Regions from separate parts of the Homo sapiens genome. Here all the other regions are linked to region 3. Evidence: fine-mapped QTL for protein levels in blood plasma. A gene starts in region 3. Each other region holds a variant in brackets. All regions are shown on one strand. Distances are from middle to middle.

Evidence for each region. PIP is the chance, under the fine-mapping model, that this variant and not a neighbour inherited with it causes the effect. The UK Biobank Pharma Proteomics Project read protein levels with antibody pairs (Olink). The fine-mapping took linkage between variants from a reference panel, not from the people measured, so its PIPs are less certain.
Region 1: its variant is fine-mapped to the plasma level of the VEGFD protein (UK Biobank, PIP above 0.99).
Region 2: its variant is fine-mapped to the plasma level of the VEGFD protein (UK Biobank, PIP above 0.99).

Annotation. Positions count from the first base shown.
Region 1 is chrX:15,407,252-15,415,251 of GRCh38, forward strand. It overlaps PIR (pirin), which reads right to left. Exons shown (of 10, transcript NM_001018109.3): 7 at 255-299. PIR-FIGF (PIR-FIGF readthrough) reads right to left here. Exons shown (of 15, transcript NR_037859.2): 6 at 255-299; 7 at 1-131. Among named protein-coding and RNA genes, the nearest start is that of VEGFD, 27 kb to the left of the region's middle. The variant A/G (reference allele first, on the strand shown) is at 5,753.
Region 2 is chrX:15,416,252-15,424,251 of GRCh38, forward strand. The region is part of intron 6 of PIR (pirin); the gene reads right to left. All of the region lies in intron 5 of PIR-FIGF (PIR-FIGF readthrough), which reads right to left. Among named protein-coding and RNA genes, the nearest start is that of VEGFD, 36 kb to the left of the region's middle. The variant G/A (reference allele first, on the strand shown) is at 2,249.
Region 3 is chrX:15,380,731-15,389,015 of GRCh38, forward strand. It overlaps VEGFD (vascular endothelial growth factor D), which reads right to left and starts at 3,683. Exons shown (of 7, transcript NM_004469.5): 1 at 3,127-3,683. The coding sequence starts at 3,216. It overlaps PIR (pirin), which reads right to left. Exons shown (of 10, transcript NM_001018109.3): 10 at 4,069-4,386. The coding sequence ends at 4,274. The region is part of intron 9 of PIR-FIGF (PIR-FIGF readthrough); the gene reads right to left.

The DNA.
Region 1 (8,000 bases), 26 kb after region 3:
ATGGTGCCTGGACTTTCATCTGTGCACAGGATGTGTCATGACTGGTGTTCATATTCTCTTCCCTCACTGAATGTTCTGTAAGCTGAAAGGCACCCTGCCCTGGGCATACCTGTGCTGGGATATAGAGAGGGCTAGTGTAGGAGAGAAGGTGGCATAGTATTCAATTACATAAAATGGTGTCATCCTACCTTTTCTCCCTTCAGTAGTTTAAATTAAATTGCAATTGAGCCCTAAGTGACACAGCCATAACTTACCAATATACACATCTCCAGATATCGTGTAAATGAAGCTTGTCCACCCTGGAAAGGACCAGCAACATTAACATGTTAGTGTCCATAATGCCAAAAGGAACAAAGACATATACGTATTACAAACACAAAGATAAATTTGGAGACGAAATCCTTTTTTTCCCTTTAGATAGACATTTTAAGATTTAAGTTCTGTGAACTGTTTAAAATATACACTGACACTCATTCTCTTTCTCACACACAAACACAGACATACCCCTAAACCTAAATGACTTGGTCCCAAATATTTAAGAAGCACCCAAAGTACAGTGTACAATTCACTTGGCTGTGTATCTATAGGCTACAAGCTGTATTACCAAACAAACTATTCCTTCCAGTTGTAATGTTATGATAGTAACTGCAACACTCCAGTCTGGCTTTATCTTCCATTTGTTGTGCCTCCAGTGTGTCTGAAGTGTGAAGCTGATGCTAGAAATATGCTTTTTTTTTTGAGCTGGAGAGCAGTGGTGCCATCTCAGCTCACTGCAACCTCTGCCTCCCAGATTCAAGCGATTCTCCTGCCTCAGCCTTCCTAGTAGCTGGGATTACAGGCACACGCCACCACATCTGGCTAATTTTTGTATTTATAAAATTATTTAGTAGAGATGCGGTTTCACCATGTTGGCCAGGCTGGTCTCAAACTCCTGACCTCAGGTGATCCGCCCGCCTTGACCTCCCAAAGTGCTGGGATTACAGGTGTGAGCCACCGTACCCGGCCTGCTTTTTTGTACTTAGTTGCATTCTAGTTCCAGTGCATTCTAGTTGCATTCTGGTTCCAGTGAACTCCTTCTTTTATTCTATCCTAACAGAATATGCATCAGTTCCAGGGATGCAGGAATACATAATCTTAGGGATATAAATGGGCTCCAGGATGGCCTGTGAACTCCCTGGAATTGTTCACAGTTTTTCAAGTGTGTACACTTTTCTGGAAAGAGAGTATATAGAATTCACCAGATTCCTACCATGACCCATGGGGCCAAGAAATCAAAATCACTCACAATAGGCTATTTGCACTCTCAGCACCAACACTTGATTTTCATAGATGTTTATATATTGTACCCATGGCTCAGAAGAGATGCTGTGTTTCCACTGAGAGATATGAACCTAGAAAAGGCACAGTCGAAATGGAATCATGATATCCCTCCATGTGCCTTCAGTGGAAAAGGAGATCTGGAAAGAGAATGCAGGGCACAGTTCAATGCTGGAAGGACAGAGCCCACACTGGAGTCTCTGGAGGAGTCAGCGTGATGACAGGGTAAACAAAGGCGAGTGCAGAAGGAGCAAGGAGGCCAAAATATGTTCCAAAGATATGACTGTCATGGCAGATGGCTTGAAACGTTCAACTGGATACAAAAGAAAAGCTATAACTGAGAAAACATAAATTAAGTCTCACTAAGAAAATCTGAAGGATGGCAAAACAAACACACATGAGCAAGTGCCAGAGAATATTTTCCCATCCCCCTATTTCACAGTTTTTCCTCTCTGAGATTTTACTAGAATGAGTTTAAGCTCTCTGAAAGTAATGTTACTTATTCATAGCTTACTCGTTTTTCTCCCTTTTTTTTTTTTTTTTTTTTTGAGACGGAGTCTCACTCTGTTGCCCAGGCTGGAGTGCAGTGGTGCGATCTCCGCTCACTGCAAGCTCCGCCTCCCGGGTTCACACCATTCTCCCGCCTCAGCCTCCCGAGTAGCTGGGACTACAGGCGCCCGCCACCATGCCCAGCTAATTTTTGTATTTTTAGTAGAGACGGGGTTTCACCATGTTAGCCAGGATGGTCTCGATCTCCTGACCTCGTGATCCACCCGCCTCGGCCTCCCAAAGTGCTGGGATTACAGGCGTTTTTCTCCCATCTTAACCCACTCATATTTAGTCTTCCGAGCTTTGTCTACCATCATTTACTGAACATCTACCATGGGCATGTACTTTAGAGGAAGATACAAAAATGAATAAGGCATAGCCGGGGTGTGCAAATTGTGCACCTTTGGCGGGGGGAGGTCCATGGTAGATGCTGAAAACACACACTAATAATTTACAGCCAGATCCCATGTCTTATCTGGATGGGCTGGCTCTGCTGGAGCACTTCTTTCTTTGTTTTCTAATGAATGCTGAGCTTTTCTACTTCTATTTAGCCTGACTTGTAATCATACTCTACAACCAAACCCCTTTCTTCTCTGCTTTTTCAAAAGTTTCGCCACAATTGTTTTTCTTTTTCAGAGCACCAATAGCTTCATTTTTTCTGATTATAAAAAAACACATTAATTTAAAAATATTTTAAGAATATGAAAGTGTGGGACATCTAAACTGAAAATCTTTCTGCAATCTTCATTCCTACCCTGACATAAATATTGTTAGCAATTTGGTATCTGTGTTTTCAGTTTTTTTTTTCTTTTATGCACTATAAGTTATTTCCTTAAAAACTAGAACTAACTCAGGTTGGGCACGGTCACTCACGCCTGTAATCCCAGCACTTCGGAGGGCCAAGGCGAGCAGATCACGAGGTCAAGAGTTCGAGACCAGCCTGGCCAACATGGTGAAACCCCGTCTCTACTAAGAATACAAAAATTAGCCAGGCGTGGTGGCACGTGCCTGTAATCCCAGCTACTTGGGAGGCTGAAGCAGGAAAATTGCTTGAACCTGGGAGGCAGAGGTTGCAGTGAGCCGAGATCTCGCCACAGCACTCCAGCCTGGGCGACAGAGCAAGACTCTGTCTCGGAAAAAAACAAAACAAAACAAAACAAAACAAAAAAACTAGAACTAACTCAATATTCTATTTTGGATACCTTTCCATGTCAAAACATAGAGAAGTAACTCATCCTTGGGAAAAACTGCATGCATTCCATTGTAAGGACATGTCATAATTTATACAACGAATCCTCTATTCACGGTTTAAAGGTATTAAAAAGTGGTTACCACATTTGACAAAACCTCAAAACTCTCAATAGTTCAACCAGGCTTTTATTTGAGTTCATTTTGATTGTTCTAATCTCATTTCTCCTCCACCTGCTTTGCTTCCTGTTCACCCTTCAAGCAGAAATCTAGTCCACAAATAATTGCCTAGATCTGTTTTTTTTCCTTTTTTATCTTTTTACATGATCTGGAAGGACCAAACATTTGCTTAAAGGAATGGCCTAAGTCAATTTACTAAGTGTGTTCATATATTTTTACTCCTTGTAAAAGTCTTCTGCTAGGATATAGTGTCCATCTTTGCCAGTAATAACACAACTCATGTTGCTGATTGGAAAGCACAGAGTGTTAGAGGGCATGGAATAGAAATGAAGGCAATTTACTTTTTTCTTTCTTTTTAGCATGATGCCCATCTGCACTTGCTTCTGTTAATTTGTTTAATTTCCACTAAGCTTTGTTTCTTCAGCTTGCTGCAAAAGAAAACAAATGCCAAATTTCATGAATGCTTACTATATGTTTAACAACAGCCACAGAAGAGATCTCTTGTCAGATTTTCAGGTCCTTCTCATCTTTCTTTCTTCCCTCACCTCTCCTCCCACTTTTATGTCCTGCACCAAGAATTGATGTCATCCCCCAATTTTTATTGCTTTGTCAGAGTTCACACCCTGCTACATTTTCCTTTCTCCTACAAATATGGTCTGCAAGCTACTGTCTCTTTGCAGCTGAAAAGCTCTTCCCTTCCCTTGGGCAGTGATGAATAAAATGAGCTGGGAGGGAGGTCACATTTTCGTTCTGGCCTCCTAGGACAGTTAAGTCAGCAACGCATTTTAAGTCAGACCTCCTTTAGCCAAACATTAAAAACCCAAAACTTTTAAAAAATATGTAAATCATTTTCTGTGGCAGTTGCTCTCATTTCCAGAGAGGCTCCTAATTCTTGCAAACGTCCCTAGTGAGAGCTTTCCTCAGCCTACATTCCTTGCCTTAACCCGGGTCATTTTCCTTCTGCCTCAGTCTTGGAGTTCATTATTCCAATGAACTTACAAGTATTCCTTACACCTGTATGTGCAGAAAAAATAGAAAAACACGGCCTGGTGACACACCAACACCATTAACAGAGATAAGGGCAACTGGGCTAAGGAGAGATTGCAACCCTTCACAAACTCTGGATCACATAATTGCCAGACCGCAAAGCAACCCTGGTCCCTAAGATCCTCCTCCCATACCCGCAACCTCCCCCCCGCCACCGGAAGTCCCCACATCAGCTTTGGCAGGTAACTCCTTCATCTAGGACCTCAACCCTGGCCTCCTAGGACAAGAGGCAGACCTGCCTGGTTCTTCCCTCCCGCTCCTCCTTCCACCAAATTCTTTTTAATTTTTATTTTAAAATAATTTCAGACATATCAAAAAGTTGCAAAAATACTACAGAGAATTATTGTACACCATTCACCTAGATTCCCCCAAAGCTAACATGTTAACATATATGCTTTATCATTCTTCTTGCTATAAATATATGTCATTCTTTTTTTTTCTGAACTATTTGAGAGTAATTTGCAGACATGTAGCCCCTTTACCTTGAAATAATTTTCAGTATGTATTTCCTAAAAACAAAGATATTTTCTTACAAAAGTATAGTGCACTTATGGAAATTATGAAATTAACATTGATACAATGCTACTATCTATGTACGGATATTCAAATTGTGTCAGTCATCTGAGTAATGCTTTTTATGGAAAAGGAGAAATAAATTTCTAGGCCAGGACCCAACCTGCGATCACACGCTGCACTTAGTTGTCATGTCTAATCTTCTTTCATTTGAAACAGTTCCTCAGTCTTTTTCTTTCATTAAAAGTACAGACCAGTTATTTTATAGAATGCCTCTCAGTTTGGGTTTATTTGATGTTTCTTCGTTAGACTGAATTGTTTGCTAATCCCTGTCCCTCCCAGATTTAGAGAATTTTCATTTATTTTCAATACTTTAATTTTTAATTCAGAAGAGCACAAAGGATGAAATAATGAACATATATGTTTGCCATACTTATTTCATATCTATCTTTTCTTTAAGATAAAAACCATACAGGTGAAAAAAAGTCCCCTAACTGGTTGCTGCCAATCCATTTTCTACACGCGTAAATTGCACCTTTTTAGAATCTCCACTTAAAATCCTTCAATGGCTCCCTGTTCTCCCAGGACAAGCCCAAACTTCTGACAGACAAACTCTTCTCAATATGGTCCTACATTTCTCCAGTATCATGGCCTCTCTGCCTGCCCCGCCTCCATATTTAATTCTATCCATGCAACTCTCTCTTGGGGAGTGGGGAAACAAAGCGCAGCAGCAAACCTTAAAGGAGGCTTTGTGGAGAACCACGGAAAACAAACCAACTAAGCAACCATGAAACAGCAACAAAAATGAGCACACACCATTACAGGCAGAAAGTTCCTGTTTCAACATCAGTGCATCACCCTCAGGGAGATCTAGGACCAGACTCTTCATCTCTTCAAGCCTCTTTGCTGGTTTGTAAAATAAGGAATGAATACGTATAACACAGAGCTGTTGTGATGA[A/G]CACAGTCTAATGAGGAAACATCAAACATACTGTTTCTATTGTATGTCTGTATAAACATATATAAATGTCCTTATACATCTGTACATACATATGTGTGTTATATGTTTTTAATCTTCTCTACACAATGCCAGGCACTTAGGAGGTATTTAACAAATATCAGTTCATTTTCCTGCCCCTTTCTTCTTTTTCCACTTTCCTTCAAATCTGTGCATGTGGAGACGTTACACAATTCTGATGAGGCTGTGACCCAGGCCAGAGAAGGGTCATTGCTATGGAGATGGCCCTAAGCTCCCTGCTGCACCCACCTCACACCAAGCCAATTAGTCTCTTCGACTGCGGAGCAAAGCTCAGCAGGGTCATCATTTCCCAAAAGAAGTCTACATTTTTGCGACGTCTCCCAAAACGTCCTCATCAAGAACCTCATGGCATTAAGGATGCTGTCTGTGTCCCACCAAACACTGCAGACTAGAATTGGTGACATAAGTTGGGTTGTCTGATCATACAGCAAGTAACAGCTCACCGTAAGATCTACTAGCTTGCCAAGAATAGGCATTTAACCCCCATCTTATAACTGAATATAAACAGCAAGATAAAGAAATGTCAACTTTGTAACTCCACAATCTGAGAGATAGGTTATTACCTGAACTTGTGAGAATTCCATTGGAAAAAAATGAGAATGCCCGTTTTACCAAATTTGATGAGTGACACCAATAATAAAATGCCAAACTATATAACAAAATGGTATACACATCAAAACACTTGAGACAGTTAGTTTTCCAGAATAAAATAGACTCAGAATGCACTTTATACATTACAGAACGATCATACTACAGGCTGTTTATAAGCCATGGGCATATAACATTAAGAGCCATCCCTCAGGATCCCATATTTTAAGTAAGCACAATTGCAGCCTATAGGAGAACCCTGTCTTATGGTTTGGTCCACATTCATAATACTGAACACTCATTGCATCAGAAGCTAACAGGAAAGCTAAGAAATAAATGAAATTTAACATTTTGAATGAGAAATATATAAGCAATATAAGCTCTCTAGAATGTAAACTCAGAATACAGCCTTCTGCATGCCCAGAATGAAGCCTAGCCCGCTGGAGGGCAAACCCTGCTGATTATTTTCTTGCTAATACAATAGTACTACAAATGTATTAGAATGCCCTAGAAGCTTATTAGAATGCCCTAGAAGCTTATCCTGTTCTTTAAAAAAAGTTTAAAATCGACACATAATAATTGTATCCTGCTCTTTAGAGACTAAGTGCACAATGATGCATTGAGGTTTTCTCATCAAGACATTTAATAAAGTTTTTAACTAAAGTAATATATGCTACTACTATTTCTTGGTTTTATTTGAACAGAACTTGTCTCCTCTTCAGACACACAGTATTCACAACTGATTTTTAATTGCTCAGAAAAAAAATCAGAAAATAATTCAAATAATGTAGACATAATCATAAAATTCTATTTTAGCACTCTAAAACAGAAACTAGTTTAGGCATTCGAACTTAGATTGAAGCCACGTTTATAGACTATTAAGATCTGAAATATACAGAACTTTAAGGATTAAATACATGTTCAAAAAATAATAGAAACCTGAAATTAGCAGGGAAAGTCATAAATAACCCTAAGATTACTTCAGGATGTATTTGGACACCTAACTGTTTTTAAGAGAAAGAGGCCTTTTTTCAAAATTACAGACAGAGTCTCACTTTGTTGCCTAGGCTTGTCTCGAACTCCTGGCCTCAGTCCCCCAAAGTGTGTGGATTACAAGTGTGAGCCACCATGCCCAGCCTGAGAAAAATATTTTTTAAAAGCCCCTGTAAAATATGAAAAAAAATACACCCCTGCCAAAATTGAAACATATTTAAATTCTTAGAATAGGTTTTTAGTTTACATTGATCATCAATTTAACCTGTTTTCTCCTAAAGGTGACATAACAGAAAAACACAACACAATGAGATGATATTACTCATTTAAAATTTTCAAGAATAGTCGTTTTTCTAACCTATGTACAAAATCTTGGATTTATTTACCAATATGCCCAAGACACTACTAATAGAGTACTGTTCACTAAAGGTCCATGTTTTTGTTTGGTGCAGGACAAGATGGCAGTTAAGAGTCCTAGCAGAAACTCAGTCCCATTACTCACTAACTAATTGATATTGAGTAAGTTACTTAATCTCTTTGTACCTCAGTTTCCTCATCTGAAAAATGAGGTAATCATAATCCTTACCTC
Region 2 (8,000 bases), 35 kb after region 3:
AGTAGAGAGCTCTGCAAAAAAATTACTCATGAATTAAATCGGCTTTTGCGTTCTATGAAAAGACTCAAAATGTAAAATTCTACATGAATCATTCATGTTTGGGGCATTCTCCTTAAAAGTAGAGAAAGACTATGAAAAAACAGGCAAGAAGCCTGTGGAAAAAATCACTACGCATTTTTCGAGGTTTACTCCAGTCATTTTTAAAAGTCACAAATGAGAGAGAGAAAAAAAATCACTACTTGTTTTCGAGTCATTGACCATATGGAAAAATGTGTGGTACTTTCAACCAAGATCATAAGTGTGGAGGTCGACTCTAAGACGTCTGCCTGATCCTGCCTCCCGTATTGCCCTATATAATTCCCTCTCTCTGAGTATGGGCTGTGGCTAGAGTCTTGCGTCTAACCAGTAGAATATAGCAAAACTGATGCAATGTCACTTCTGAGATTAGGTTACATAAAGTCTCTGGCTTCCAACTTGCTCATCTTTGTGCCTTCTGATGAAGTCAGAGGCCATGTTGTGAGTTGCCCTATATAGAGCCCCATGTGGCCAAAAACAAGAGAGCAGACTCTAGCCAGCAACCCTTGAGGAACTGAATGCTGCCAGCAACCACATGAGTGTGAGCTTGGAAGCACATCCTTCCCAGTCAAGCCTTGAGATGACCACAGTCCCAGATGACACTTTATTTATTTATTTTTTTCTGAGACAGAGTCTAGCTCTGCCACCCAGGCTGGAGTGAAGTGGGTGATCTTGGCTCACTGCAACCTCCACCTCCCAGGTTCAAGCAATTCTCATGCCTCAGCCAATCCCCGCCCCCCTCCACCCCCAGTAGCTGGGACTATAGGCCCGCACGACCATGCCTGGCTAATTTTTGTATTTTTAGTAGAGATGGGGTTTTGCCATGTTGGCCAGACTGGTCACAAACTTTTGGCCTTGAGTGATCTGCCCACCTCAGCCTACCAAAGTATTAAGATTACAGGTGTGAGCCGCAGCGCCAGCTCCGGCTGACACTTTGATCGTGGCCTTGTAACAGTACACAGCTAAGTTGAGAGACATTGCAAGACAATACATGTTGTTCTAAGGCACAAAGTTTTGGGGGTAATTTGTTATGCAGCATATAGATAATTAATACAATAAGATTTATTTAAATGTATACTAATGTGACTTACCAAGTAGCTACTGTATGTATGGCATTAAAATCTACTTTTTAATCAAGGAAGATGTAGCTCCTTTCCTTTTTTTTCCCCATAAACACAGAAGCAAAAATATATTGGTGTATCAGTTTCCTATTGCTGCTATAACAAATTACTCTAAAACTTAGTGCTTTAAAGTAACAAAAATTTTTATCTTACAGTTCTTGAGGTCAGAAGCCCCAAAATGAGCCTCATAGGTCTAAAATCAAGCAGGACTGTATTCTTCCTGGAGGCTGTAGGGGGACATTTGTTTTCTTGCCTTTTTCAACTTCTAGAGGTTGCCACTAATCCTTGGCTTGTGGGCCCTTCCATTTTCAAAACCAGTAATCACATCACTCTGACCTCTGCTTCTATTGTCACATGTCCTTCTCTCACTCTGACTCCCTGTCTCCCTGTTTCTCTTATTTAGATTCTCATTTATGACACAGGGTCCACCTGCATCATCCAGGCTAATCTCCCTATCTCAGCAGCATTAACTTAGTCACATCTGCAAAGTCGTTTTTGCCATGGAACATAACATATACACAGATTCTGGAAACTGGGACGTGGACATCTTTGGGGGGACATTATTTTGCCTACCACAGAGGGGTAGACTATATGGTTTCTAAATAAATTTTGTTTATTGATCTACATATACTGTAAAGGAAAAGTTATAAGGTGAGGAAAAGCAAAAAGGTTCATAAAATCAAGTTTTTTCCATAACAGCTCTCCATTTTTAACATTCCAGATCCTGCCTTTAAGTATCTAGAGGCAAAGGTGCTGTAAAAGGAAATGAGGAAAATAAACAGAGTGGCTGTTGAGGGCCAAACTGTGATACAGTCAGTCAGAAGACAAGGGGGACATGAGGACAAGAAGGCACATGTTTCTTGGAAAAGACTGATATTTTCCTAGAAATATAGATTTATGTCCTTCATAATTAATGGTAACAAACAGTGTTATCTGTAAATCAGTTTACAGCAAAAGGAAAGTCAGATTGCCTTGCGCCTTGCAAGAAATGGTAAAAGTCACCATTAAAAAACTACTTACTCTTATTTTAGCCAAGATCTAATATAAAAAAC[G/A]TGTGGCCAATGTGAAAGGAATCTGGTACTGTCAGAAACTCGACAAATTAGATTCTTTGTAAGTGATGCACCGTCCAGCTCAATTCCTGATATCAACTGCCTTCCAAATCATCACTGCATGAAACATCTGTTTTCTGCAAGATTAGCACAACCCAAGAGAAACGTGCCTAGCCTGAAGGAAATAAAGAGATGGTAAAAATCGATTCAAATAGTATTCATGGGAAGGAACTCAGATAAAACCTAGTCTGATTCATGAGAAACGTTTTCAGTCTCCCTTAACTGGATTTCCCTTGGAATATATGCATTTTCCCAGTATCAGGGAGAGGATGGTAGCAGTGTATGCTTCTATTGCTATCCAATTAGTCTGTTAATGATAAAACCAAGTCAACATTAAATTAGTTAGACTGCAAAGCTTATGCCAAAAGCCAAACATAATCCAGACATCCATGTCAAATCCCTTTACCATGAGTAACAAAACAATCAAAACATTATAAACGAAACATGTCCAGGACCCAGCCAATGGCCTACACATTTCACGAAATATTTGATACAACAAAGCACCCAAATAAAAAGAATCTAGACAGTCCTTGGAGTTTATGATGGAATTTGACCTGGAAAGGTGGAAAAAAAAAAAAGACAAATGGTGACCTTGATTTGAATTACTTCATAATAAACTTTATACAGCATAATTTTACCATCCAGTATGTCTGATGACAGGCAGCCAGGACTATCAAAGCTGCAAATAATGAGTGCTTTATAATACTTGAATTAATTGTTAGGCACTAAACAGAGAAGCCTCAAACTTTGTATTTGTCACCTAATGCAGTGGAAGCATGGATAAGTCTGTGTGTGTGTGTGTGTGTGTGTGTGTGTGTGTGTGTGTGTGTGTAAGACAGAGAGAGAGATAGGGGAGGGAGAGAGAGAGAGAGATACAGACAGACAGACTGAGAAAGAGAGAACACTATAACTAAAAGTGATGTATTGGAAAAGAAAGGATCTTTTGCTTCATAGCTGGGTTCATAACGCACTTGTTTAAAGTGGGTTTACAGACGCTCAATGCTAAATGTGCAATTCTAAGCTATTTCCTGTTGTATCCCTATAAAAATGTTTTTGAGGCCGGGTGTGGTAGTTCATGCCTGTAATCCCAGCACTTTGGGAGGCCGAGGTGGATGGATTACCTGAGGTCAGGAGTTTGAGACCAGCCTGGCCAACATGGTGAAACCCCATCTCAACTAAAAATACAAAAATTAGTTGGGCGTGGTGGTGGGTGCCTGTAATCCCAGCTACTCAGGAGGCTGAGGCAGGAGAATCGCTTGAACCCGGGAGGCAGAGGTTGCAGTGAGCCGAGATCATGCCATTGCACTCCAGCCTGGGCGACAAGAGCTAAACTCCGTGTCAAAAAAAAAAAAGTGTTTGAGGCTGGGCGCAGTGGCTCACACCTGTAATCCCAACTTTGGGAGGCCGAGGTGGGCGGATCACCTGAGGTCAGGAGTTCAAGACCAGCCTGGGCAACATGGTCAAACCCCGTCGCTACTAAAAATACAAAAATTAGCCAGGCATGGTGGCATGCGCCTGTAGTCTCAGGTACTCGGGAGGCTGAGGCAGGAGAATCACTTGAACCTGGGAGGCAGAGGTTGCAGTGAGCCGCGATCACACCACTGCACTTCAGCCTGGGCGACAGAGCAAGACTTCATCTCAAAACAACAACAACGACAACAACAACAACAACAAAACATGATTGAAAACAAATCTCAGGTTTAAAATTCATGATGACAAAATAAAATGCAAATACAGCTTTGGAAACTGACAGATATACGTTCTCTCTCAGGAGGCAATATAAGGTGATGTCTGAGAGCAGAGCAAAAATGAACATGAACCATACACTTCCTGCTAGTGGGATTGTGGAGAAACTGGTATTCTATATGCTGCTAATAGAAAGTGTGACTGCCTCTTTGGATTGCAACCTGACAATGTCTTTTAAAACTAAGCATGCATAGATCTGGTGACCATCCCTGGAAACCTGTCTCATCAAAATAAATTTCCACATGGGAAGGCAGATACACAAGGTATTCATTGCAGACCAGTTTGCTGTAGCCAAGCACTAGGAACAAAGTGAATTCCCATTGATAGAAAATAGCTAAATACATCATAGTATGTATTTAGATGATGTAGAATATCACTGTTAAAAGGAGCCACCATTAATGATGAGTGCCTGTAGTCCTAGCTACTTGGGAGGCTGGGGTGGGAAGATCTCTTGGGCACAGGAGTTCGAGGTTGCAGTGAGCTATAATTGTGCCACTTTACTCCAGCCTGGGTGACACAGAGAAACCCTGTCTCTTAAACAAAACAAAACAAAAGGAGCTATATAAGTAAACTGGGAAGGATTTCCATGAGTATTTTTCAGTCAAATAAATAGGACGTAAAAGAGTAGTTATGATTCCATTTTATTAAAATGACAAAATAACCTGATATTTGCATATATGTGAATGCACATATATGTCAGTGTATAAAAATAAGTGTGGAGAAAAATACAGCAAGATATAATTCAAGGATATATCTGTGATCTATATAGTGAGGGTACTGGACATAGATAAGGGAGGACAAGGGATTGGAGGAAAGCAACTCAAAAGTTTAAAGATAAAAGCACTGCACTAAAAGGTTAAAGCACACATACACTTAATGTTATAAAAATCACGGATAGTGAAGGCTTATGTTTAAGCAAATTAATCTAAAATTTTTCTGTACTTAAATAGCCAGAATGGAATCCAAAATTAGTAGAAGGAAAGAAATAATCAAGATCAGAGTAGAAGTAAATGAAATTGAGACAAAAAAATACAGAAGATCAATGAAGTGACAAGTTGGTTTTTTGAAAAGATAAATAAAATTGACAAACCTTTAGCTGGACTAAGAATAAATGAGAGAAGACCCAAATAAATAAAATCAGAAATGAAAAAGAAGACACAATAACTGAGACCATAGAAATACAAAGAATCATTAGAGACTATTATGAACAACTATATGCCAAGAAATTGGAAAACCCAGAAAAAATTGATAAATTCCTGGATACATACAACCTACCAAGATTGAACCATGAAGAAATAGAAAACTTCAACAAAGCAATAACTAGTAATGAGATAGAAGCCATAATAAGTCTCCCATAAAAAAAAAAAAAGCCCAAGATCTGATGGCCTCACTGCTGAATTCTACCAAACATTTAAAGACAAATTAATACCAATCCTACTGAAACTCTTCAAAGAGACTGAAGAGGAGGGAGTACTTCCAAATTTATCCTATGAGGCCAGCATTACCCTGATACCAAAACCAGACAAGAACGCAACAAAAAAAGAAAACCACAAGTCAATATTGCTGATGAACATAGATGCAAAAACTCTCAACAAAATACTAGCAAACTGAATTCAACAGCACCTTAAAATGATTGTTCACCATGATCAAGTGTGATTCATCCCAAGGATGCAAAGATGTTTCAACATTCAACATACACAAATCAATAAATGTGACACATCACATTAACAGAATCAAGAAGAAAAAACATCATTATTTCAATAGATGCTGAAAAAGCATTCAATAAAATTCAACATCTCTTTATGACAAAAACCTTTAACAAACTGGGTATAGAATGAACGTACCTCAAAATAATAAAGGCCTTATTATGACAAACCCACAGCTATCACCATATTGAATGGGAAAAAATTGAAAGAATTCAGTTGAAAAACTGAATTCTTCTGAGATCTGGAACAAGAAAAAGATGCCCATTTTAACCACTTTTATTCAACATAATACTGGAAGTCTTGGCCAGAGCAACTAGGCAAGAGAAAAAAAAAAAACAAAGGGCATTCAAATAAGAAAGGAAGAAGTCAAACTAGTCTTGTTCACAGATTACATCATCTTACACTAAGAAAAACTTAAAGACTCCACCAAAAAAAACCTATTAAGACTAATAAACAAATTTGGTAAAGTTGCAGGATACAAAATCAACATACAAAAATTAGTAGCATTTATATACACCAAGAGTGAACAATCTGAAAAAAATATCAAGAAAGCAATCCTATTTACAATGGTTACAAAAAAAGATTATAAAATACCTGGGAATCAACTTAACCAAAGAATTGAAAAATCTATACAAGGAAAACTATAAAACACTGATGATAGAAATTGAAAAGGACACAAAAAAAATTGAAAGCTATTCTGTGCTCATGGATTGGAAGAATTAATATCATTAAAATGACAATACTACCCAAAGCAATGTACAGATTCAATGCAATCCCTACCAAAATGCCAATCTCATTCACAGAAATGAATCCTAAAACTTATATGGAACCATGAAAGACCCCAAATAGCCAAAGCAATCCTGAGCAAAATGAACAAAGCTGGAGGCATCACACTGCCTGACTTCAAATTATACTACAGAGCTATAGTAATCAAATCAGCATGGTATTGGCATAAAAACAGACACATGGATCAATGGAACTCATTTTTGACAAAGGTGCTAAGAACATACACTGAGGAATAGACAGTCTTTTCAATAAATGGTGCTGGGAAAACTGGATATTCATATGCTGAAGAATGAAATTAGACCCCTATCTCTTGCCATAAACAAAAATCAAATCAAAATGAATTAAAGACTTAAATTTAAGACCTCAAAATATGAAACTACTACAAGTAAACATTGGGGAAAATCTCCAGGACATTGGACTGGACAAAGATATTTTGTGTAAGACCTCAAAAGCACAAGCAACCAAAGCAAAAATAGACAAATGATATTATATCAAGCTCAAAAGCTTCTGCACAGCAAAGGAAACAATCAATAACATGAGGCTGGGTGCGGTGGCTCACGCCTGTAATCCCAGCACTTTGGGAGGCCGAGGCAGGCAGATCACTTGAGGCCAGGAGTTCAAGACCAGCCTGGCCAACATGGTTAAACCACATCTCTACTAAAAATACAAAAATTAGCCAGGCGTGGTGGCACACACCTGTAATCCCAGGTACTTGGAAAGCTGAGGCAGGAGAATTGCTTCAGCCCAGGAGGTGGAGGTTGCAGTGAGCAGAGGTCACACCACTGTACTCCAGCCTGGGTGACAGAGCAAGACTCTGTCTTAAAAAAAAAAATAGTGAAGAGACAACCCACAGAATGGGAGAAAATATCTGCAAACTACCTATCTGACAAGGGATGAATAACCAGAATATATAAGGAGCTCAACAATTCAATAGCAAAAAGAAATCCAATTTAAAAATGGGCAAAAGCTCAGAATAGACATTTCTCAAAAGAAGACATACAAATGGGCAATAGGTGTATGAACAAAATGCTCAACATTACTAATCACCAGAGAAATGCAAACCAAAACCACAACGAGACATCATCTCACCCCAGTTAAAATGGCTGTTATCAAAAAGGGAATAACACATGCTGGTGAGGATGTGGAGAAAGGGGAACCCTTGTATACAGTCAGTGAGAATGTAAATTAGTACAACCATTATGGAAAGCAGTATGAAGGTTCCTCAAAAAACTAAACATAGAACTACCATATAATCCAGCAATTCAACTACTGGGTACCTATTTAAAAGAAAGAAATCAATATATCAAAGAAATACCTACACTCCCATGTTTATTGCAGCATTATTCACAATGTACAAAACGTAGAATCAACCTAAGTGCCCAGTAATAGATGAATGAAGAAAATGTGATATAAATATACAATGAAATATTATTCAGCCATAAAAAGAATGAAATCCT
Region 3 (8,285 bases):
CAGAAGGCCAATGTGAATGAGAGAAGAGTGAGGATGTAGATACTTATTTACCAAATGTCCAGAGTGTCTACCACATTGTACTTAGGGCTGTCACATACAGATATGTCTATATGCATGGAGCACCCTAGAGTTGTGCAGTGCACATCGTGTACAACTGTATATGACTGTCTGAGCTGTATTAAAAAGCTGGAGAAAATAGAAACAGAAATAAATTCCACATCTAGGCCGTAATCTGATTATATTAATGAACGATGCATAGGTACTGGGTTAAGCTTATTTCTAGAGGAAAACGTGTTCTTCTTAGACTGAGAAACTTAACAGCTAAATAGTATACACAGTGGATTTGAAATCTTAAGTTGAGATTTTCAAACAGATTTGTCTCAGTTCACATGTTCCATGCACTGCTGACTCCAAACAGCTATCCTTGCAAACACAAGTGGTAAGACTAATGAAATTAGGAGGCCTTACACCCAAATGGCATTAAGCACAATCGTCCAGAGCACTAGTAGCTATTTCATGATTGCTACAGGAAAAAAAAAAATCTTCACAGATACCTAGAACTATCGTAGAGGCAATGCTAGTCTAAGCTGGAAAACTGGACAATCTTCAAAGCTAGAAAGTGAAAACTGGGCTGGGGGTGGCTGGAGGACAACCTAGGAGCAAAATTGGCATCACCATCCATTCTGGAAAAGAGGTGGTTAGAAGAGGGGAGGGTGAGGAGAAAGAAATACATATGGACCAAGTACCGAGGAAGACCATGAATTTCTTATAATAAATAAAACATTTTATTTCAAAAAGTAAAAAAAAAAAAACAAAAAATTCAAATACCACCACCCTAAACCATTACCACCATGAATATGTTTTCACACTACATTTTAATTTTAACAAGAAGAACTTTAACATTTAGAAACATTATTTCCTCTTAGATTTTCTTTTCTTAAAAGTTGGGGAAAAAAGAAAACTATAACCAATATTATATATCTCATTATCCCTTACCACTCAGTCATATCTATGCCAAAACTTCTGTTTAGCTATAGGCAATCCTTTCCTTCATATCAGAAATAATTTAATTGAGCGAGGGGTAGGGTGGATATAAGTTCAGTATATGTAGCTTCACTTTTTAAAGGAAATTCTGATATATTCTGAAAAAAAATTGCTAATCGTATTAGTAAGTATATAATGCTGCATCCTCCACGTGTAACAACTTGTTTTCTGTCACATGCAAATTCAGCTGCTTTCCTTCGTTACTCCATTCAACAAATTTATATATTAACAGTACATTCAAAGCATTTAAAACTTCACAGTGCCAGCCGGGCGCGGTGGCTCACGCCTGTAATCCCAGCACTATGGGAGGCCAAGGCGGGCAGATCATCAGGTCAGGAGATCGAGACCATCCTGGCTAACACAGTGAAACCCTGTCTCTACTAAAAATACAAAAAATTAGCCCGGCATGGTGGCACGTGCCTATAATTCCAGCTACTCGAGAGGCTGAGGCAGGGGAATCACTTGAACCCGGGAGGCAGAGGTTGCAGCGAGCTGAGATTGCATCACTACACTCCAGCCTGGGTGACAGAGTGAGACTCCGTCTCAAATAAATAAATAAATAAATAAATAAAACTTCACAGTGCCCAGGACACCTGAGACATTCTTGGTGCTTGTGCTCTTTGAAAGAGCTGAGCAACCTAAAGAATATGACTTATGTCCAACAATTCAGTCTCCTTTATTATACCATCAGATAAAGTGATGTTTTACAAGGAAAATGGAAATATTTTAAAACTCGAGGAGCCCAGCACATCTAAAGGATTTCTGTTTCATGAACTTACGAAAAAGCTGGACAGTCGGAAAAGTCTTACTTGCTTCAAACAAGTCAGACCGTTTTCTCCTGTTACCTATGCTTACAGTCAGATTCCCATTTACCTACAATCTGGCCTTGAGATCCAATATCAAGGCTGGTGGCAGTAAAATGGAGCCAAACACTGTGATTTCTCCCATGTAAATTTGGAATTTGAGAAGTTAGAAAAGTGCTGGCTGCCAGACAAGGTGACTTCCCACTCACCTCCAGCTCAGTGTTCAACATTTTTAAATATCAGCCCCCACCCTCGCCAGGCCACCAACACCAGCCAGGAGCCTTTGAAGACACTTTCCCCCTATGCAATTTGAATGTATAACGTATTTTAAACTACATACCATATGTACTGTATGTACGTCTGTGCGTGATGTATCAAAAGGGTAAAACTTTTTCATCCCTCCACGAACCAATTTTCCCCTGCTGGGGGCGATATCACCCCTGTTGAAAATGCACGTCCTAAACAACAGCTACAAAAACTCAAACTCACATTTAATTGTCTTTTCAAGGCCAGAAGTTCCTAAATCAATAATGATTTAGCACCACTTCAGTCAAAACAATTACATCCGAATCATTTTCAAAATAGAAGCTTAAAATATATATAATCCATGAAATGCATAAAATTGGGCTAAGTATTGTTCCAGCAGTCAGCAACATTCTGGTTAATTTTTTGCATTACTCTCTGTTCGTTAAGCTCTATTTGATGCTTGCTCACAGAACCAAAGATTTGATTAGTGTTGAATTTTACACCTTTCAAGAAGCGAAAAAACCAAACACTCTCTGAGAAAACATTTTTCTGGATGGCAGCAATTGGTAATTTGCAAAAGCAGATAGAAAATGTTCATAGAAAGCACTGCAATTTTCAATTTACCAAACGAATAAACTAACCTCTGCTGCTCACAAAGACCTGAAAATAAATGGCCCACAAAGTTATCAGTCATAAAAACAAATCAATGTTTCATTAAAAAACCACTGTGCCATCTGCATATGCAACCGAGGAGAAACTTCTCCATCCAAAAAGATTCCAGACTGCTCATGTTCTACCATAACTTCAAAAAACAACCAACCCCCACCCCAGCATTTTCAAATACTCATGGCCAGAAGTTTAATAAGACTAAGAAACAGAACAGTCACCAAGAAATGCAGGATATATCCTGTCCAGTCCACTACTAGGATGGTTCTGCATTTTTATATTGTTTCAAAAATAGTGAGGGCAAAGAAAGTCCTCTGTATGAGCCAATAAAAAGAACTTCATCACATTAAAAATTGAGCTCACCTACCTTCACTGGTCCATGTTCATTACTGGAGCCCTGCACCAGCTGGACGTACAACATCATGAAAACATTCACCACTACCCACTCTCTGTACATTTTGAATATTTCAATATCCACTGATTACTAAGCAGTTGACATCAGGCAGCTAGAGAAAATTGTTTCAAAAGGCATTCTCCAGAAGGAAAGTTTGAAACCTCAAAACTTCACACAGAAAACCAAATAATCAGTTCTGATCAAAATCCAATGAAATTATTTCAATTAGGCAAGGTACGCTTTTTTTGCACAATCTTAGGGGTGGGGAGAGAGAGATGAAAAAAATCAAAATGTTCTCCAAAAATAATCAGAAGGTGGACATGTCTTCTACCTGAAATTAGAAAGCACTCTAAATTTACTTCATGTCCAGAAAATTAAAAAAATCTCTCCAATGTATGCCGCAGGTTCTAGTTGCTTTGTAAGGAGGTGGTGTGGCCACCAATGCTTACAGCTACAGAAAGCTGGAACCCAACTCTGGATTGAAACTTTTTTGCACAACCTTCATGGAAGCTTGCAGAAGCATGTGTCTTAAATCTGACACAGATTTTGGCAGAAAATGCAGAGAAGTCTTGGCTGTAATCCTGTTGCGTCCCTACCAATAGCAGGGCAGTTTTAAGAACTGACTCAAATGTTCAGGGCTGCCGTTATTTTAAAGCAGATAACCTGTAACATGAAACCCCAGCACATAGCTTTGACCTTTGTATCTCAGTGGGATTGCTTAAGAAGGGACCTCAGATGCTCATGCATCTGCTGCCAATGACACACAGAAAGCAATCAAATATGATTTTTAAAACCTGCACATGCACAAAAATAATAAAAACATCCATCCATACATGCAAAAAAAGGCAAACATACACAAAACGACTTTTTAAACAGAAGCTTAGTAACTTAGGTATCTCAAATGAAAAACACTGATTTTTAAAGAAACAATGATTAGGTTTATTTGCATGTGCCAGGAAATATCCTACATTTATTGTTACAAAAACCATGTTATCACGTTAGTGTGGAATTCTTTAGAAGCACCGGCTAAATAAGCTTTAGAAATGGAATGCCTTCAATGGCTCAATCTCAGAAATGGCAAAATTCTAGGACACATCAAGACCTGCTCTTCCGCTTTCCACTAGTTCCCAATCTTTGATTTCCAGGTTTTGGCCCTTTCAAACCCATTTTTTGCGTTTCTGAAATCAAGAATAGCTTGAGAAATCTCTTCATTGGTGTTCATCACAAATGGACCTAGGGCAGAAAGAGACATTCAGAAAGTTCTGGGTGGCAATATTTTCCTCTACCACTAGAAATGATATATATTTCTGTAGTTCTTAATTTAAAACAAAATCCAAGCACATCCGAAGAGTAAAAGTTTATTTTCACAGTGTTCAATCCCCAAGGACTGTAAGATGAGTTTCTTGACTAGGATTGTATATGATTATTGATTATAAAGACGAAACTTCAGATAAATGCAATGGCATCTCACCCATTCAGTATAGGTTTCTCACCAGCAATGGTGATCTTTTTTATTAAAAAGAGTCTTAGATTTGGTTCTATTACAACCAATTTTGTAGTTATTTTTATAACATTAGCTGATGTCAAGAATTGAACCCATCTGATACAAAGAACTGACAAATCTTATCATAGCTTTGGTGTCTAAGCAGCATATAAGGCTGTATACTTATTTGAGGATTCTAAGTCATTTTTTGAAAATCAGCAGCACCTATTGACAATAAACAGAAGATTATAAAAATTTCAAGTCGAAGAGCATCATTTTTTAAAAGTTTTCTAGGGGTTGGCAAATGTTTGCTAGGAAGGGCTAGATAGTATGTATTTTAGATTTTGTGGGTCAAACAGTGTCTGTCTCAACTACTCAACTCTTTCATCAAAGTGCAAAAGCAGCCATAGATAATGCAAAAGTGAATAGGTATGGCTGTGTCCCAATAAAACTTCATTTACAAAAACATGCAGTGGGCAGATGTAGCCCATCGACCATAGTTTGCTGACCCTTTTGTCTAATTGCTGGGTCTGAACTCGGATTTTGCTAAAAATGTACAAGAAGTCCTCCCCTAATCTACCAGGAGGCAATGTGTGTTTCTTCCCCTTTCTTCATATATTGTAGGGGCAGAGAGGCACTGGACTGTCTCACCCCCATGATCTGCTAGATGAACAAGGCCAGCTTTTATATGGCATTGACAGTGTCTTTAGAGCAGTTGACAGACTTGTTCACTCAGTGTATGTCCTCATCCAGCCTGCAGAAGTTCCTGACATTCCTTTTATGGAACTGCCTGCTCTAAGGGGCTTTCTCTGGGAGATTCTGATTAATATACAACTGTATTGCTTAGAGAAAATAACATATTCAAACTTCTTAACCATTGTTATCATATCAACATGGATTTGGTGATCACTATAATTTAAATCTTCAGAAGGAAGACACAGGATAATATGTCTTGATGATGCTGAAATCTTTGGAGAGGATGTGGGGAATAGAATACAAGTAGAAAGAAAACACCCAGGCATCTAAATCCATTCATTCAATTACCTATCTATTATGTACTGAATGCCCATTAAATGACAGACATTGTGCTAGAAGCTAGAGACATAAAGATGAAAGACAAATAAATGGCAGACTCCCTCTCCTCAAGGATTCAAATCTATCACACAGATATGAAAAGAAATCATTACAAAACTGTTTGAAATATGGAAGGATAAAAGTGTAAAAACTATAAAATCAACACAGAAAGGGGGAGGAGGAGAAATCCAGGAAAGGATTCACAGAGGGAGTGATGTTTGAGCAGTCACACACGGAGGAAAGGCATGTTCAGGCTTAGTATGCTGGAGGAATACTGGAGGGGATAGGGGTACAGTGGTGGAAGGAGGGATCAAAGGCGGAAAAAATGGCGATCTGAAATATAGGAAGAAACCAGACCCTTCTGGGCTTTGGATGCAATCTACAGGAAGAAGTTTGGACCTACTTTTGCAGGTGATTATGAATCACTGTAAGGTTAAGTAGGGAGTAATATAATATGATTTATAATTTTTAAAGAAGACTTTGGCATCAAGGTAGAAGAGCAGGTGTCTAATTTGGGAGGCTGAGTCAATGGTGGAATTGTTAAGGGTATTTGAGATACAGGACGTGGGAGGCTTTGGATGGAGCAAGGTGTTCAGTTCTGGATATTTTTTGTTTTGTTTTTCTTTTCTTTTCTTTTTTTTTTTTTTTTTTTTTTTTTTTTTTTTTGAGACCGAGTCTTGCTCTGTCGCCCAGGCTGGAGTGCAGTGGTGAGTGGTGCGATCTTGGCTCACTGCAACCTCCGCCTCCCGGGTTCAAGTAATTCTCACACCTCAGCCTCCCCAGTAGCTGGGATTACAGGCACGTGCCACCATGCCCGGCTAAATTTTTGTATTTTTAGTAGAGATTGGGTTTCACCATGTTGGCCAGGCTGGTCTCAAACTCCTGACCTCAAGTGATCTGCCAGCCTCGACCTCCCAAAGTGCTGGGATTACAGGCATGAGCCACCGCGCCCGGCCCAGTTCTGAGTATTTTAACATAGAAGTACTAGAGACAATAAAGTGGTTTCCCAAGCAGAGGTTTTTGGTACATTGTTGAAACTATGGATCTGGAGCTCATGAGAGAAATTTCATCTGGAAATGGAGGTTTGGACTATATCAGGTAGGAAAGAAAAAGAGAGTTAACATATGCAGAATAAACAATAAACCCAAGAGGGTACCCTGGGGAAGACAACTTTTTAAAGGACACGCAGGGGAAAGGGAAATGCAACTTGGAAGATGGGAGCAGGTACTGAGTCAAGGACCAAATTCTTGTGCCTCATAATTTTGCTATGGTTGGGACTTGTGGAGCAGTACTCCCATCCCCCAACTGTTTTCTGTAAGAATGGTGTGCTTCTAGGCTTCCATTTTGACACTTTCTGGGGTAGTCTGCCATGTTTCTCAATTTATAACGTGCACATGAATCAGCTGGGAATCTTATTAAAATGCAGATTCTGATTCAGGAGGTCTGGAGTGAGGCCTGAGATTCTGCATTTCTAACTATCTCCCAAGTGATGCTGATACTGCTGGTCCATGGACCACACTTTAGGAAACAAGTATAACCTCTGTTATACAGGGAAGCATTGGAAGCTTAGAGTCCCCTAAAGCTAACTGATGAAGCTTATCTCCTCAAATCTTCAAGGAGAAAACTGAATCCAGAAAGCATGTTTTTAAATTGATCAACTACAAGGGTTGTGAACAAGAAAATTATTTGATAGTTACCTATAATTCTCTTTCAAATTATAGCTTTCATCACTTCTCTAATTAAGCCTCTGAAGCCCCCCTCTTGTATAAAATGGTGTGTCTAACCTCTTGTTATGTAGAACTTTGGTATAGTGGAGCGAACATAAGACATGGGGTCAGGAGACTAGGGTTCGAGTCCCAGCTCCACTGCTAACAATCGCTTTCCATTAGAGAAGCTACAGGGCAGAGCAATGGACGACCAGCATGGTAAGAGGCAGAAGGGCAGGGTGTTTGGAAAACAGACAGCCTGAGTGTGAATCCAGCTATGTGACCTTGAGTAAGCCAATGAACCTTTGACCTTCTGCTTCTTCATCTGTAAAATGGGCATGAGAGTACCAACCTCATAGGGTTGTTTTGAAGGTTAGACGGATTAACATTAGGAAAGTGCTTTAACCAATGTCTAGGAAATAGTAAATTCTATGCAAGCATCCATTAAGTAAATAAATAAAATATCTGGATTTTATTTTCCTCATCTATAAAAGAGGCATGACTACATCATGGCTAAGGTTATTTTCTATCCTAACATTCTATGATTTCCTGTGCTTAATCTGTGGATGAATAATTAAGGACACACGATGATAAGAGGAGAAAGGGTCTTAGGTAATTCATGAGATCTGTGCAAGTTCCCAATCAAGAGATGGTTGTGGCTGCCTTTAAACACACATAAGTAAAAGAAAAACTTAAATGTCTGAGTTTTTAAAAGTTAAAAAATAAAAACAAAATGCTTTGCTTCTCAGTAACTGAACTTTCAAGGGACATATTTATTTTGTCTGATTACTCCGAGTTTGTATGTGCAGGCATACCTAGTGTCCCTGTGTTCCAAGCCACTGGGAGAGGATCCACATGACCCCAGTGTA